Linked DNA regions of Homo sapiens: region 2 is linked to region 1. Evidence: fine-mapped expression QTL. A gene starts in region 1. The other region holds a variant in brackets. All regions are shown on one strand. Distances are between the middles of the regions.

The links. PIP is the estimated chance that this variant, and not a neighbour inherited with it, causes the effect.
Region 2: its variant is fine-mapped to the expression of OVCH2 in minor salivary gland (GTEx, PIP 0.99).

The regions. Positions count from the first base shown.
Region 1 is chr11:7,702,242-7,710,584 of GRCh38, reverse strand. OVCH2 (ovochymase 2) reads left to right here and starts at 4,108. Exons shown (of 16, transcript NM_198185.7): 1 at 4,108-4,278; 2 at 5,911-6,020; 3 at 6,796-6,887; 4 at 8,256-8,343. The coding sequence starts at 4,191. It overlaps LOC105376533 (a long non-coding RNA gene), which reads right to left. Exons shown (of 11, transcript XR_007062576.1): 7 at 4,930-4,990; 8 at 4,307-4,360; 9 at 1,048-1,184.
Region 2 is chr11:7,898,164-7,906,506 of GRCh38, reverse strand. LOC283299 (a long non-coding RNA gene) reads left to right here and starts at 552. Exons shown (of 8, transcript NR_036678.1): 1 at 552-904. LOC107984307 (a long non-coding RNA gene) reads right to left here and starts at 185. Exons shown (of 3, transcript XR_001748116.2): 1 at 1-185. RefSeq lists enhancers at 1-463, 464-1,007, 1-1,008. The variant C/T (reference allele first, on the strand shown) is at 3,694.

The DNA of each region.
Region 1 (8,343 bases):
CATTTGGGTTGGTTCCAAGTCTTTGCTATTGTGAATAGTGCCGCAATAAACATACGTGTGCATGTGTCTTTATAGCAGCATGATTTATAGTCCTTTGGGTATATACCCAGTAATGGGATGGCTGGGTCAAATAACACCATATATCTACATCTATCTGATCTTTGACAAACCTGAGAAAAACAAGCAATGGGGAAAGGATTCTGTATTTAATAAATGGTGCTGGGAAAACTGGCTAGCCATATGTGGAAAGCTGAAACTTGATCCCTTTTTTTCTTTTTCTTTTTGGCTCCTACCAATCACTAGCTTCAAAACTGACACAAAAGAAAGAAAGATGCACTTGCTCGATTTATCTTCTCAACTGGCCTCCTTCACCACTTCATAATTGTTGGAGATAACTTTTTTATTGTCCTAAACTACTTCTTTTTTTCTGGCTTTCTCACTCATCTACATCTCCTGCTAACTTCCTTTCTCCGTCATACCATGAAAATTTTGTCTTCATAAAAGCTAGTATCTTGGAGACAAACTACAGAGACTGAAGCATAACACATCAAGTTTTCAACAAGAATACGGGGGCTAATTGTATCTTTTCCAAACAGACTCCTGTTTCCTTTCCCCTATTTTCCTGTTTTCTTCATACCTGTGTGTGAATTTTTTTGCTTTTGCCAACACTGACTCAGGCAAATCCCTACACGATTTCCCTTCTGTTCCCTCTCATTTCTGGCCAGCTCACTTTTGCCTAAGTTTGTTTCTTTGCTATCTATCTCCTGTGCTTAGTATGTATAGGAACTTTCCCCACTCTTCCTTTCTCCAGTATCGCTGAAATTCCTGGGTATAACTAAACCACTTTCTGGAGTACTCCCATTTCTATTCTAAGACTCAAACAGTGAGAAGGGGCAAAGTGATCCTTCCTTTGCATGATTCATATCATCCCTCAGTTCCAAATCATCTCTTCCCTTTTAAAATTTATTTTTAAAAATACCCTTATTGTTTTTGATTATCCTTGAGGCATTCTCAGATTGTTCTTAATTATTTTACACTTCAACTTACCTTGCATGTACCTTTAGTGTCATCTCTTAGTTGCAACAGGGAATATGCAAGGTGTTTATAAAGGAGGATTCAGTGGTTCCCACTTAGCGATTGGATTAAGTTGGCAGCCTGAGACCATACGGTGTGTCCTCCTGCTCCTGCTCCAAATTTATGATAAGAAGGATGTATTAAACAAATGAACTCATAGCAGTGCTGGAAAACCTGAACAAGGAAAGCTACTTTTAGTGGCCCCAAATTATGAATATTTCTAGAACGATAAAAAGTAGATGGAATTCAATTAAGGAAAGAACCACAACCTAACATGCCTGTTAGGAGAAAACTGCTGAAAAAGTTCTGGAGTAGACCCACTCCAATTTATTCCAAGTAAGAACCAGTTGGTGTTTTCCCCTGGGAGGGAGATGTGAGGGGGTATTTGGGCCCATGGGGCAGGGCAATTCCAGGTGGCTGGAAACTTCAGGGAGAATGAGAAGCAGACAGGTCCAGAAACCCAACTCCTGGGACTCTCTACCAGACAGTACATTCTGTTACTTTCTCTGGGCCACTGGAGGTGGCTGAGAACATTCCTGGTGATGAGTGTTTATGGCACTGTTGACCAAAATTGAGGCTGTCAAGACAGAAAAAAATCTATAAAGGTTTATTGAACCTCAAATGTGTGGATTGACCCAGGAAGACACAGCAACAAAGTTGGAGTGTTCTGAGGTCTGTCAGAAGGTGAAAGGTTTTGACAGAAAAATCTGAAAAGACAGAGAGAGATTGCTCATACTGGAGTTGTTCTCTTTTCATTGGAGGGTACAATACAGAAGTTATAATCATTAGCTATGGATTATATCACAGGGTTATAGGAACACATTAAAGTCACAGCTCTGCAATCAGCAAAATACAGAATGTAGAAAATGCTAAAGGTCTAAATAACCAATTCTTTCAACAAAAATAATTGCTGCAAAAAAGAGAGAAGAAGGTTATAACAGGTAGACCTGAGATTTTCTAGGTATAGAATCATATCATCTGTGAAGAGAGACAGTTTTGCTTTCAGGAGAAATTTTGATACTAATTTCTCAACTTGGGGATTTACAGACAGGGAAAACAATGTATTTGAATTCCAAATCCATGTTTGGTGCAGACTTTGGTCCAAGATTCTCAAGAGAGATTTTTTCCCCTTTAAAAGGTTTAATAGTTTCATGAATGAAAAATTGATTTTATACTACCATGCCAAGCAACACTTTAATATATTCCTGTCTGCAAGTAACTACAATGTACAGTTATTATAATTCCTATCCAGACCCTGGGAGGGTTGAATAGCTGGACTTACAAAAATATAGTGTCTTAGAACCTGCTACATCCCCCATGAAGAGCAAATATTTTAACAGCAAGGGGGCCACATTTTAGCCCCTTAAGAGATGAAAGTAACAAACTCTTAATGACCAGCTTCATGTGGTGAAGAGTGTGTTGATGTGTACTGATAGTTGTGCTGATGCAAGAGCTTGAAGCAAATACCCTCTCCTGAAATTAAGCACTAAGCAAGAGCTCATCATATTTCTGTGTGACAATCAATAAAAACGCTCCACTCCCACATTTTACAAAGGAAAACTCATCATTCTTTCAGTATAGAGTCAAATTTTATTGTCCTATGCTATGTGCCTACTTTAGGCTTGTCAAGTTTAGTGCATCCTAGGCCCACACTAGGTCTTTCTGCACTTTTGACATTAACAGTATACACATTTTAGACAGAATGTAGTGAATTTGGGGTCAGAAAGGCCATATTCCTAGTCAAGTTGCTCTCAAAAGTGATTGATAAAACACAATAGCAATTTAAAGGGAGCTTGCTGTCAAAGAAAGATTGAGACTTTGATTAGGGCTTAGACATTGATTGATTACCTCTTGGGGCTATCACTCCATACCAATAGCCAAAAATGTTTGGCATCAGGATTACAGTAGTTATAGATAAAGCCTCAATAGAGGTTTGAGTTTCCTTCTTTCCATAAGGCTACATTCTTGATTAGTGTACCTAAATATGTAGTGCTTACAAATGTTAAGTTTTTACACCTTCTCTGTTTTGCATTTATATTATTTGTATGTGTTGTATTTTCATACTTTTTTGTACAAAGACAAAAGTTGCCAAAAGGAAATTAAGAGCTTTTGGGCTGACATTTGTTATTTTTAGTGGGTAACTTATAAAAGTTGACAGAAAAATGTTATATTTCTATCTGGTCATAGATGGCATTGACCATCCTATAAATATTTCTCACACACTGACCATGTGCCCAAAACTCGTTGAGGAAAGAGGAAAATGTACAGGTAATCATAGCCACTTTACTCTCCCAAGCATCTACCAGGCATAGAAGTAAAGGAGATTTAGTGTTTCCCTTCTATAAATACAAAAATGATAGGAGAATGCAGAGTCACAAATGCCCCAATGTACAGTATCCTAGATGACTTTCTAACAGCAGGGCTTCCTGAGTGTGACACCCAAATATCTTTCCACTTCTCTCATTCACCAACATATGTTTATAATAACCATGTAGTTACATTTGCAAAATAAGATAAATAAAAATATTTTAGAATATTGGCTGGGCGTGGTGGCTCACACTTGTAATCCCAGACCTTTGGGAGGGCAAGGCAGGCAGATCCCTTGAGCCCAGGAGTTTGAGATCAGCCTGGGCAACATGATGAAACTCCATCTCTGCCCAAAAAAATTATATACATTTGGATGGGTCGTTTGCAAAAAAGTAGGGAAGTGTACCCTTGCAAACAAGGACAACATTGATAGTCAATCTTCTTATAGAAAGTGGTAAAAGTGGTAAGCTCTACAAAGGAGCAAGTAATGTTTGCAGATGCAAATCTTACATGCTAACCACTTTGCTAGCCAGATACACTCTGGAGGAATCAACTAATTGGTGTAGGTGTAATAGGATATGTAATATTGCTTGATCAAGACTCTGCTTCTGTGGTTGTTTCTCCACATCTTCCAAAAGATCTTTGCGAAACACTACATTCAGAAACATCAGATGGACATGCTTGATTCACCACGTCTTGGTTAATGAATAAACTTGTTTTAAATTGGCTTATTGCTGGTCTCTCAAGGCTTCCTATTTTTGTTTGCTTTAGTCTCTCTAAAATTTCAGGGAAAAACTATGAGTCTCAAAATGCTTATAAGCAGGAACAAGCTGATTTTACTACTAGGAATAGTCTTTTTTGAACGAGGTAAATCTGCAACTCTTTCGCTCCCCAAAGGTAAGTTTCAAATGAACTCTATAATTACCTTTGTCTGAACCTTTGCTGGCAATGGACGTCACAACTCCGAGACTCCATGTTCCTTTGGGAAAATAGGAGAAGCAAATATATTTTGGATATCTAATTGTTTTTAAACAATTATTTTGGACTTATCTCCTGCAATCGGCATAGGACACAGGGTGAAACATTTATAGAATGCAACTAATGTATCCAATTAAGTAAACAATCCCTGTTTTCTTCGCTTAGTTTTCCTAAGTGAACTGAGATTGTTCACTTACTTGAACCCATTACATAATCCCATCTTGGTTCATAGAGCAAATTCTGGAAATCAGCATGGATTTGGAAGCATTTTTAATCTTTTACAAAATCATCTTGCTGAGAAATATGAAGCATGTTCACTGTAGTATATTATAAATGGTCTTTTTTCCCCTTCAACTAACTTAAGCTGAAAACAGTTCTTGGAAGATTTCTCCTTGGTCAGACTTGTGCCAACCCTGAGAATCAACATGTTTTCTGACTTTGCTTTACTGAATTTGGGAAATAGTAAATTTTGTATTTAAAGTATTTATGACTCATTCAACTGAAACAGTTAGAAAATAAGCTTTTGTTCCAATGTCATCCTGGCACTGGGTTCAGGATCAAAACACTTACTGTTACATTCATGCTCTGCCATTATCCAGCTGTGTGTCTCCTTGATTCTCAGTTTTCTCATCTGCAATGTGGGGATAACAGTGCTTCATTTATAGGCATAGAGTGGGATTAAATGAGAAGCTGTATGAAAGAGCTTTGAATATTTTAACATGTTGATCTAAATAGCTATACTCTTAAGGATGTGTTCTCAAGAAAAGTCATTTGTTTGTCCATCCAGTGTTTCTAAGTGCTTACTTATGCCAAGAATTAAGCTAAACCTTAGAAATGCAGAGGTGAATAAGGCAAGTTTTTTCCCTTGAGTAGTTCATAGTCCGATGATAGAGGCAAATAATTCATTATCACAATTCTGCATGACAAGAACTATAAAAGGGGTGAAGAAAGCGTGCTACACAACACAAGGGAGAGGCAATCCCACTTTGAGGAAATCAAGGAAGACTTCCTGGTTGAGGTGATCTCCAAGCTGAGGAATAAGAATTACAGAATTTAGGTAGGCAATGAAGCATGGTGATTATGAAGCAAGGCTAGTTCTAATCCTCCTTCAAAATATGGAAAAGGATGACCTCCAGGAGGGACAGAAGATGTGCCATCCTTGAGTTACCAGGTGATGTTAAACATCTTTAATCTAGTCTACCTCTTTGCTGAGGAGTCAGAAAACCCATTGAGGGCAAATAAATAAAAACAACTTTTTCAGGGATAAAGTATTTTACATAAAGAGGGAGGAGTTTTTTCTTCTATTACCTAGCAAACCTCTATCCGAGTACCAACTTGTGAATCAGGACACTTCACTCCACTCTCCTTAAATGACCTGTCACTTTTCATCCCTCAAGAGAATTAAATCCAATAAAGATTTATTGATATCTGAATGTGTGCTGAGCACCATACACCATAGTCTCAGACTCAGTTTCATGGGTGAAATGGAGAAGATATTACCTCAATCCTAGAAGCTATCTAATCATTTAGTTTGTCTCGTTTTTTTCTCAGCTCCCAGTTGTGGGCAGAGTCTGGTTAAGGTACAGCCTTGGAATTATTTTAACATTTTCAGTCGCATTCTTGGAGGAAGCCAAGTGGAGAAGGGTTCCTATCCCTGGCAGGTGAGTCTCAAGGACTTCTATGCATCAAGAACTGTGCTAGATATTATGGATATAGATATTTTTAAGGTTAAGTTTATATCTTTGAGGAGCCTACAGCCTAGTTGGGTTGAAAGACAGAATAGTCATCATGGCATGTGATGAATGTCATAAGAAAAAGTATTTACTTGTACATAGTAAGTCATTTTAGAATCAAATCAAGTATCACAAATAGGATAAGCAAAAATTAGAAAGTATATTGGAGAGGTAGGGTAAAGAATAGGCTTGAAGAAGCTATAGGGGTCAAATAGTTAAGAGTATGAGAAAAGTGGTAGATCCAAACCATTTCCCTAAGAGGCTTAGAGAAATAGGAGTATGTGTTGAAAGGCTCCCCAGCCCTCACCTTGCCTTTCTTCCAAACCTCTTCAGCTGGACTCTGCAATATCTTATACTATTTTACCTTCATTCACAGACACTGTTCATATTGTTAGAGCAACAGGTCTGCATCAACTGTGTTATAAAAATAAGTAAATACATCTCACCACTTCTAACTGCTACCTCTGTTGACACATACTTACAGCCAGTCATCTCAAATTAACTACCTCTCATCTAGACCAGGGTTGCCAGCACCACTCTTCTTTCTGAGCGGTAGTGTCTGGGCTTTATCTTTTCACAGTCCACGATTCTTGACATTTACGAGTGTGATATCTGAGTCTGGTTTTGAGAATAGGCTTCATCACCGTGTTTAGGGGGATCCCAGGGCATGAACTTGCTTTCATTTAAGGTATTTGCAATTTAGGTATCTCTGAAACAAAGGCAGAAGCATATTTGTGGAGGAAGCATCGTCTCACCACAGTGGGTGATCACGGCGGCTCACTGCATTGCAAACAGGTAAGAAAGGCCTAGCCCATGAGTGAAGACCACACCACCATTTCTTCTCCCTTGGAATCATCAGCAATAACCCTATTAAAACATGGACCTGTGTGATAGGTGAGTATTGGTTTAACAGATGAATATCCTAATTGCATGACACAAATGGGGCTGGGTGACATTGTCAGATGGCACTTGGTAGATGACATATATTCTTTTCAGAGGTAAAATTCGTTTTTACTTAAAATAACTGGAAGTTAATAATAGCATCCAAGTCAGAAAAAAAAGAGCATTACAAAGAAGGATTTGTGAAAGTTTTCTTCTAGTTTTCTTAAATTTCAGTGAAAAAATATCTAGTTCATTATGCATCTGAAGAAATGGATAAAAGAAAACAAAGGGAGACCAGTAAAGTAGAAAGTAGGCTCCCTGTCTTCCTTCCCATTGATCCTGCCTCTCTGGGACTCAACCCAACAACTTCCCTTTACCCACTTTCTTGTGTGATCCAAATATCCTATTATTGACAGTGTTCTGGGCGTATACTAGGCTGTAATCAAGATCATGTTCCCATATAGTCATTCTTTCATTTCAAGTCTGCAAACATTTCCTGGATGTTTACTTTGTGCTAGATACCAAAGGTACCAAAATGACTAAGACATGATTTCTGCCCCCAGAGAGTTGACTCTTCTTTTAACAAGAGTCAACCGATCATCTCACAGCAATGTGGCAAGTGGTAGGTAAGAGAGACATTATGTGTTAAGTTAGGTACCTAATTTGGCCAAGAGTCAGGGAAGTATACCTAGAGAAAACATGCCTTTTTCAATTTTGTATAGAAGCATCACTTCTGGGAATGAAGCGTCTCAAAGGATGGCAAGCTGAAGTCTTTATATATCTCAATGCATCCCACCAAGTTCCTTTCAGAGAACATTAGTTAGTTATAATGCAGTCTGTGCCTTATAATATATACTAAGCATAGGATCTCTGACATTGAAGTAGCATACTTACTGGGAATCACAAATCATTCCCAAAGGGTCTCACTGATATTAGGTCAGGTCAACCTCCCAGGGTAGCTGAATAAAGTCCCCTATAGCTGTAGAGCCCTGAACTACAATGTATGTGCCTCTCTAGATATTTTCAAATAACATTGCAAAGTATTAAATTCATCATATCCTTGGCTATATATGAACCCACTCTTCACTAGTCCTCTACTGGAAGTTGGAATCTCTGCATTTTTTTCTAACAGTGTTGGAATTATTCTCACTTTCTCTGCTCAGCAGCCTCACACCCCATATTATTTATCCATATCATTTTAAAGAAGCTAGTGTGTCAACCATTGCAACTGTACTCAGAGGCACAATGAAATTCATTCATTTTACTCTTTGCTTTCCATAGAAACATTGTGTCTACTTTGAATGTTACTGCTGGAGAGTATGACTTAAGCCAGACAGACCCAGGAGAGCAAACTCTCACTATTGAAACT
Region 2 (8,343 bases), 200 kb before region 1:
TGTGCTAACATTCTTAGATATCTGCTAGCTATAATAAAGAAATCAATGTACTTTGTGTTCTTAGCTCCCACAATTTAGCCTAAATATTTGCCCTGGCATGCTTACACTGGTCCAAGCAAGTATTAAGTCATAGTCTGTTCCTCTTCCTTATTTGGAGGTGTTTTTACCTTTCTCAGCATTCCACAAGTTACTTCCTCCTTTGTTCTCCTCTGCCTTTGCCTCTTTTAAAAAGTTCTAAGTTGCTGGCTAATCAGGACAAATACAGAATGTGAGGTGCAGGGAGCTGAAGGCCCCTGGGAAGTGACCAACTCAGCATTTCGCTGGAGGCTATAGGATCAAACAGCAAACTGTTTATCATGAATGCAGGATGTGGGCAAACTCACACTGCCCTGCCACCAAAAGGTTTGTTGAGGGCCTCACTCCCTGGCGCTGGGCTCCTTGAAGTTATCTATTGAGAAGTCTAGCACCTAAGAATGCAGTCTTGCAAGCCTGCTGCGAATCAAGCTGCTGGCCAACAACCACTCCCCACCTTCTCACTATCTCTATTGCCTAATAAATATGGAGGGCAGTGTAAAGCTCAGGGCCCTTGTCCACTAGAGACAAGGTGCCCTCCGACCCCTTCTTCCAAATATACTCTTTTGCCTCTTGTCTTTTATTCCCGTGTTTGCCCCCTTTGTTCAGTCCCCCTAGGTCCATGCAGGTTACATAGTGGTGCCCCAAACAGTGACACAATTGGGTTCTCAACAAGTGGTGACTCAGAACAGGGACGCCAAGGATGCCAACAAGTGGCGTCTGAACACGGGACTTCGACGATGTGAACAAAAAAGATCTGCTGGAGCAGAGAAGCTGAAATTGACAAGGCAAACGGGGACCCCAGGATGAGTCTGCCGGCAGCATATATAAGGTCAGTGCTCTAAAGAGGTACTGGGAGCAGTGCTTTATAGAAGTGCTGGGAATGGGAAGCTTTCTGAATCAGGGTAGCAGGGGGAATAACTTGTCTGTTGAAGAAAAACATTATGTGCAGTTGCTTAAAGTTCTGTTGAGACAGTCTGGAGCTCAGGTTAATTCTCAGACACTAACCTCCTGCAGAAGCCACACAAAGTTATTATGCATAACTCATGGTTTCCACAGGCAGGCACTCTTGATGTGGAAAACTGGGATAGAGCAGGAGAAGGATTAAAACAGGCTCATCAAAAAGGTCTTGAAGTTGATTCTTCTGTTTTCTCCACTTGGAGTTTAGTTTGTACTGTACTTCTGCTATTATCTCATTATTCTGCGGGACAGCAGGCTGAATCTAAAAATCTAAAAGAATCTGTTGTCCCACCCACAGCTCCAACTGAAAATAAAAAACAGGAGAGGGAGGATAAAAGTTGGCCTATACTGCCTCCTCCAGTTGCAGAAACATTTGTACCGCCTCCTTTGGTGGCAGAAATAGAGACTCCAATACAAAGAATTTTATGCTCTGCTGCAATAGCTGGAGAGCCCTTAGGACCTCACGCTTTTCCTATTTCCATAAGGCCTAATCCTAACAATGCACAGCAGGTTATTCATGAACACACTCCACTAGATTTTAACTTGTTAAAGGAATTAAAAGCGAGTGTGGTAAACAATGGCGTACAGAACCCATTCACCTTAGGATTGCTAGAATCTGTGTTTGGTGCTATGCGTCTTTTACCATTTGATGTGAAACACTTGGCGTGAATTTGCTTGTCGGCTACTGCATATCTGACATGGAATTTAAATTGGCAAGAAATGTGTGCAGACCAGGCTAGACAGAACTGTGCTGCTGGAAATGGAGACATTACAGAGGATATGCTATTAGGTAATGGCCCTTATTCAGACCTGGAACCTCAAATGGGACTCCCAGATGTTGCTTATCAGCAGTGTGCACAGGCCACTAAATGCACCTGGGCCACTATTCCTGAAGGAGTCCCAGTACAATCCTTTTTATGTATCATACAAGGGTTGCAGGAACCCTATGTGCAATTTCTTGCATGATTACAAGAGGCAGTGAAGTGTCAGATTTCTCATACTGCGGCTGCAGAAATGCTAACCTTAACACTAGCTTTTGAGGATGCAAACACGGATTGTAAATGTGCACTGGCACTGGTGAGGTGTACAAAAAACTTGGGAAATTTTCTCAGAGCTTGTCAAGATGTAGGAACTGAGCTTCATCACTCTGCAATGTTAGCACAAGCAATAGCTAATTTATCAGTTGACAAATCTAAAAGGAGCCAAGGGTCAAACCCCAAAACGGGAAAATATTATAAATGTGGAAAAACTGGACATTTTAAAAAGGAATGCTGCCAGATCTCAGGACAGAAAGGACCTTACAATGCAGTGCCCCACCCAGCAGAATAAACACCAGGATTCTGTCCTCACTGTATGAAAGGAAATCACTGGGCTAATCAGTGCCACTCAAAATTTCATCAGAATGGCACCCCCCTGCTGGGAAACGAGATGGGGGCCTGGACCCAGGCCCCACAAACAATAAGGGCATTCCCAGTCCAGACCTCAACCCCATTTCAGAGGTCAGTTCCCAGAGGCACATTGATCCCCTCACCCCAGGAACACCAGGAAGTGCAGGATTAGATCTACCCGCCAGAGAAAGAATCACTTTAGTTGGTGGAGACAAACCTATGAAAGTTCCCACTGGCATTTGGGGACCTTTACCAGCAGGATATATGAGACTAATTTTAGCCAAAAGCTGCCTTAACTTGCAAGGCATTACTGTAGTGACTGGCTCTGATTATGAAGGAGAAATTCAAGTAGTTTTAATGTCACAAGATCTTTGGGTTTTTGAACCAGGAGAATATATTGCTCAATTATTGCTTATTCCCTGCAAATTACACCCTTCTCCATGAAAGGAGAAATGAGGAAATAAAGGGTTTGGGAGCACAACTACTTGGGAAATCTATCTATCCCAACCCATAGCCTCTAATAGAGCCACCTGTGTAGTACAAATTAAAGGACAGACATTTTATGGGCTTATGGATATGGGAGCTGATGTTTCAGTAATATGTAAAGACAATTGGCCCCCCATCCTGGCCCTTGCAATTAACTTCTATGTCCCTAATGGGAGTAGGAACAGCTCAAAGTGTTCAACAGTATGCTGAAATTTTATCTTGTCTTGGTGTGGATGGACAGTCATGTACTTTTCAGCCTCATGTTGCAAGTATAGCCATCAAATTATGGGGTTGAGACTTACAGCATGGGATATGAGACTTACAAATGAAACTTTTGATAACCCAGAACTTAAAATGTTAAAGAACATGGGATATCAGCAGGGAAAACCTTTAGGAAAATTTCTTCAGGGAAATCCTAACCCAATAGCAGTAACTGGAAAAACAGATAGCTAAGGGCTAGGACGTCAGGATTTCTGATGGAGGTCATTGATATTTCTCCTCTGCCCACTGCCTTACCATTAGAATGGCTCAGTGACAAACCCATGTGGGTGGATCAATGGCCCCTATCTCAGGAGAAGCCGACACAACTTCAACAGCCAGTAAAAGATCAGTGGGATGCTGGACACATAGAGGAGTCAGTTAGCTCCTGGAATTCTCCAGTGTTTGTTATTCTAAAAAAGTCCAGAAGATGGTGACTGCTACAAGATTTAAGAGCTATTAATACACATATAAAATGGATGGATGCCTTACAAAAAGGTATACCATCTTCAGTGGCTATTCCAAGAGT[C/T]TGGCCTCTTGTATTAATAGATCTTAAGGATTGTTTCTTTACTATATTCTTACATGAGAAGGATAAGCCTTGATTCGCCTTCTCTGTGCCTTCTATTAACCAAAGAGAACCTGTTTCTTGTTATCAATGGAGAGTTTTACCCCCAAGTCATGCTATGTCAACATTTTGTAGGACAGGCATTAAAGGAGTCTCGGAATATGTTTCCTACTGCTTACATCATTCATTTTATGGATGATATTCTTTTGGCCCCTCCTATAGATCAAATCCTACAGCAGTTATTCAGAGAAACGAAGCAAGCTTTGACTAAATGGAATCTCAAAATAGCTCTGAAAAAGGTACAAACAACTTCCCCATACCAATACTTAGGAATTATTGTTATGGAGAGAAGTGTACGGCCTCAGAAAGTAGTTCTCTGTAAAGACAGGTTACAGACTTTAAATGATTTTCTACAATTATTAGGAGATATTAATTGGCTACAGCCAATGTTAGGTATTGCTACCTATCAACTTACACATCTTTACCAAACCCTGCAAGGAGATTCTACTTTAAATTCCCCATGGCAACTAACTAAAGAGGCAGAAGCCGAATTACGGCTTGTAGAGAAAATGTTACAGCAGAGACATGCCTCACAGCTACAACTGCAAAAACCTTTGCTTTTGTTTATTCCTCCTACCCCCCACTCTCCAACAGGACTATTGGGCCAGTTCATAGACAAGTCTGCAACAGTAATAGAATGGCTCTTTCTACCTAATCAAACAGTCAAAACCTTGCAAGTTTATCTTTCTTTAATTACACAAATTGTGACTATGGGCAGGCATAGGTCAAAAATGCTTATGGGATATGACCCTGACAAAATTATTGTTCCTTTAGACTCCCAGCAACAAGCCACAGCTTGGGAAATGTCAACTGCCTGGCAAATTGCTTTTGCAGATTTCATGGGTGCTATAGATAATCACTACCCCTCAGACAAAATTTTACAGTTTTATAAAATCCATTCTTTCATTCTTTCTGTGATTACTCATCACAAGCCTATTGCAGGTGGACAGACTTACTTTACTGATGGCTCTTCCAGAGGTCATGCTGCTATCTATGGACGTAAACATACTCAAATAATAATGACATCTGGGGCTTCAGCTCAAGGCTCAGAGCTAATTGCAGTCATTCAGGTTTTACAGCTCGCAGCTTCAGATCCTATCAACATTGTCTGTGATTCAGCTTATGTTGTAAATGTAACCAGTCACATAGAAACTGCTACAATTAAAAGTACACTAGACCCAGAACTGTTTAATTTATTTTTAAGACATCATGTTCACACATATAAGTGGGAGCCAAACATTGAGTACACATGGACACAAAGGAACAGCAGACACTGGGGCGTGCTTGAGGATAGAGGGAGGGAAGAGGATGAGGATCCAAAAATTACCTATCAGTTTCTATGCTTATTATGTGGGTGGCAAAATAATCTGTACACCAAACTTCTGTGACATGCAATTTATTTATATAACAAACCTACATATGTTCACCGAACCTAAAAGTTAAAAAAATAAAAATTTCTACCAACATCTAATGTGAAAAACAAAACAAAACAAAACAAAAAAAGACTTCAGCGAGTTACTCGTTCTCATGCAGATCCTTTTCATATTTCTGATATTTGTTCTCATACACAACTTCCAGGACCATTATCCCTAGGGAATGATAAAGTAGATATAAATTGATTTGTTCTGTGTTTCAGCAAGCTCAAGCATCTCATGCGCTTCTGCATCAAAATACTTCCACCCTTACTTGCGTGTTCCATTTATCTTGCAGCCAAGCTAGGGCTATAATACAAGCCTGTCCTACTTGTCAGCATGTCCCTGGAGCCACACCTGTAGAAGGCTGTAACTCATGAGGTTTGGCTCCAAATGAAGTTTGGCAAATGGATGTTACACAATAGTTACCTTTGGTAAGCTTAGCTATGTTCATGTGACTATAGATGCTGCATGCTACATGCCAAGCAGGTGAGACAGCTGGTCATGTATGGCGACATTGTCATCATTTGCTCATATGGGGATACTTAAACAATTAAAAACTGATAATGGAACCGCTTATACTAGTCATGCTTTTCAAAATTTCTTACAGCTTTGGGCTATAACCCATAAAACAGGAATTCCTTATGATGCTAGAGGACAAGTCATTATAGAATGGGCCCATCAAACATTACAATGCATGTTGAAAAAACAAAAAGGGGGTATAGGAGGCCAACTACCACCTCAATCGAAACTACCTTTAGCCTTAGTTACTTTAAGTTTTTTTTTTTTTTTAGATGGGGTCTTGCTCTGTCATCCAGGCTGGAGTGCAGTGGCACGATCTCTGCTCACTGCAAGCTCTGCCCCCTGGGTCCATGCCATTCTCCTGTCTCAGCCACCTGAGTAGCTGGGACTACAGGTGCCCGCCACCACGCCTGACTAATATTTTTGTATTTTTAGTAGAGATGGGGTTTCACCGTGTTTGCCAGGATGGTCTTGATCTCCTGACCTTGTGATCTGCCCGCCTTGGCCTCCCAAAGTGCTGGGATTACAGGCGTGAGCCACCGCGCCCGGCCTCTACTTTAAATTTTTTGACTCCTAGTATGGATGGTAAGACTCCAGTAGAAAGACATTGGCAAATGTTAAAGGAAAAGAGGAAAGTTTATCCAAAAGTGTTATGGAAATCCCCGGAAGAAGGACAATGTAAAGGTTCGGTGGATTTACTGACGTGGGGAAGAGGATATACTTGTGTTTTTACAGATGGACAAACCCTGTGGGTGCCCTCAAGACATGTGTGACCATGGAATGGGAGACTGGAGGAACCCAGGGTGGCCAACCATGAGCCCGGTCCTTCTGGTACGAACCATGAGACAGCTGAGCCTGAGTGTAAAGACAGACAGAATGCCGGCCAGAGTCACAACACTGTTCTAATGCTATGTTTTCTGTAAAATTGGATGGACCACCAATCAGAGAATGAGAGCTACCCAGTCTGGCCTTACATTCTTTCAATTAATACATAAACAAAAAGTGGGATATGCAGGGAGCCGAAAGCCTGTGGGACATGACCAACTTAGTATTCTGCTGGAGGCTATATGATCAAACGGCAAACTGTTTATCATGAATGCAGGATGTGGCCAAACTCACACTGCCCTGCTACCAAAACGTTTGCTGAGGGCCTCACTCCATGGTGCCAGGCTCCTTGAAGTTATCTATTGAGAGATCTAGCTCCTATTGTTCTAAGAATGCAGTCTTGCCAGCCTGCTGTGAATAAAATGCCAGCCAACAACCACTCCCCTCCTTCTTGCTATCTCTATTGCCTAATAAATACGGAGGGCTGTGTAAAGCTCAGGGCCCTTGTCCACTAGAGGCAAGGTGCCCTCTGACCCCTTCTTCCAAATATACTCTTTCATCTCTTGTGTTTTATTCCCACATTTGCCCCCTTTGTTCAGTCCCCCTAGGTCCATGTGGGTTACAGTGAGGTCCCATTCCAGCCAATGGAAACCAGACACAGCAGTAGGGTGGATGCGTCAGGTTATAAATAACCCTGTCTCCTTTGTTCGGTGTACTCTTGTGGCAAAACTGCTGGTGAATGTACCCTTTCTGTAGAGAATAAAAATGGCCTTGCTGAGAAAATTAAATGTATGTTCAAGTGCTATTTCTTTGTGGCACCAGGGAACAAGCATTTCAAACATGAGTGACAGTCAAGTCTCACTTTTAGTCATGTTCTGCATTATGGGCTGAACTGTGTCCCCTGACATTCATATGTTGAAGTCCTGACTTTCAGAATGTGACTATATTTAGAGCTAGCACCTTTAAAGTGGTAATTAAGATAAAATAAGGTCACTAGGGCTGGCCTTAATCCAAAAAATCTGGTATCCTCATAAGAAGAGGAGATTAGAATGCAGACATTACACAGACTGAAGGACGGCCACGTAAGGACACAGTGAGAAGATGGCCATCTGCTAGCCGAGAAAAGTAGCTCATAGCAGTTTGAAGAATGGGATGTATGCAAAGTTTATCAGGCCCAGACAGACATGAGTGAGTCTTCAGTCATGCCCCTCACACCCATGTCAGGAATTAATCATTTAAAGGCAAGGTTATCATCAATAGCAATAAATGTCTTTGCCACACTGCTATTAATTGCAGATGAGGAAATGGGGTCACTCAAGTAAATTCTTCAGGGCCACATTTTTTTTTTTTTTTTTTTTTTTGAGATGGAGTCTCGCTCTGTTGCCCAGGCTGGAGTGCAGTGGTGCAATCTTGGCTCACTGCAAGCTCTGCCTCCTGGGTTCATGCCATTCTCCTGCCTCAGCCTCCCCAGTACCTGGGACTACAGGTGCCCACCACCATGCCCAGCTAATTTTTTTGTATTTTCAGTAGAGACAGGGTTTCACCGTGTTAGCCAGGATGGTCTCGATCTCCTGACCTCATGATCCACCTGCCTCGGCCTCCCAAAGTGCTGGGATTACAGGCGTGAGCCACCACACCTGGCCCAGGACCACATAATTTATTAATGGTATGTGAAACTTATTGTCTGTCATAATTATTTCCAAAGAATATAATAAAAAACCTATACTTTGTTTGAATGTCTCATGTGGTAAAAAGCCAGCAAAGATGTCTCAAATGCTTATCCTAATGAAATGTA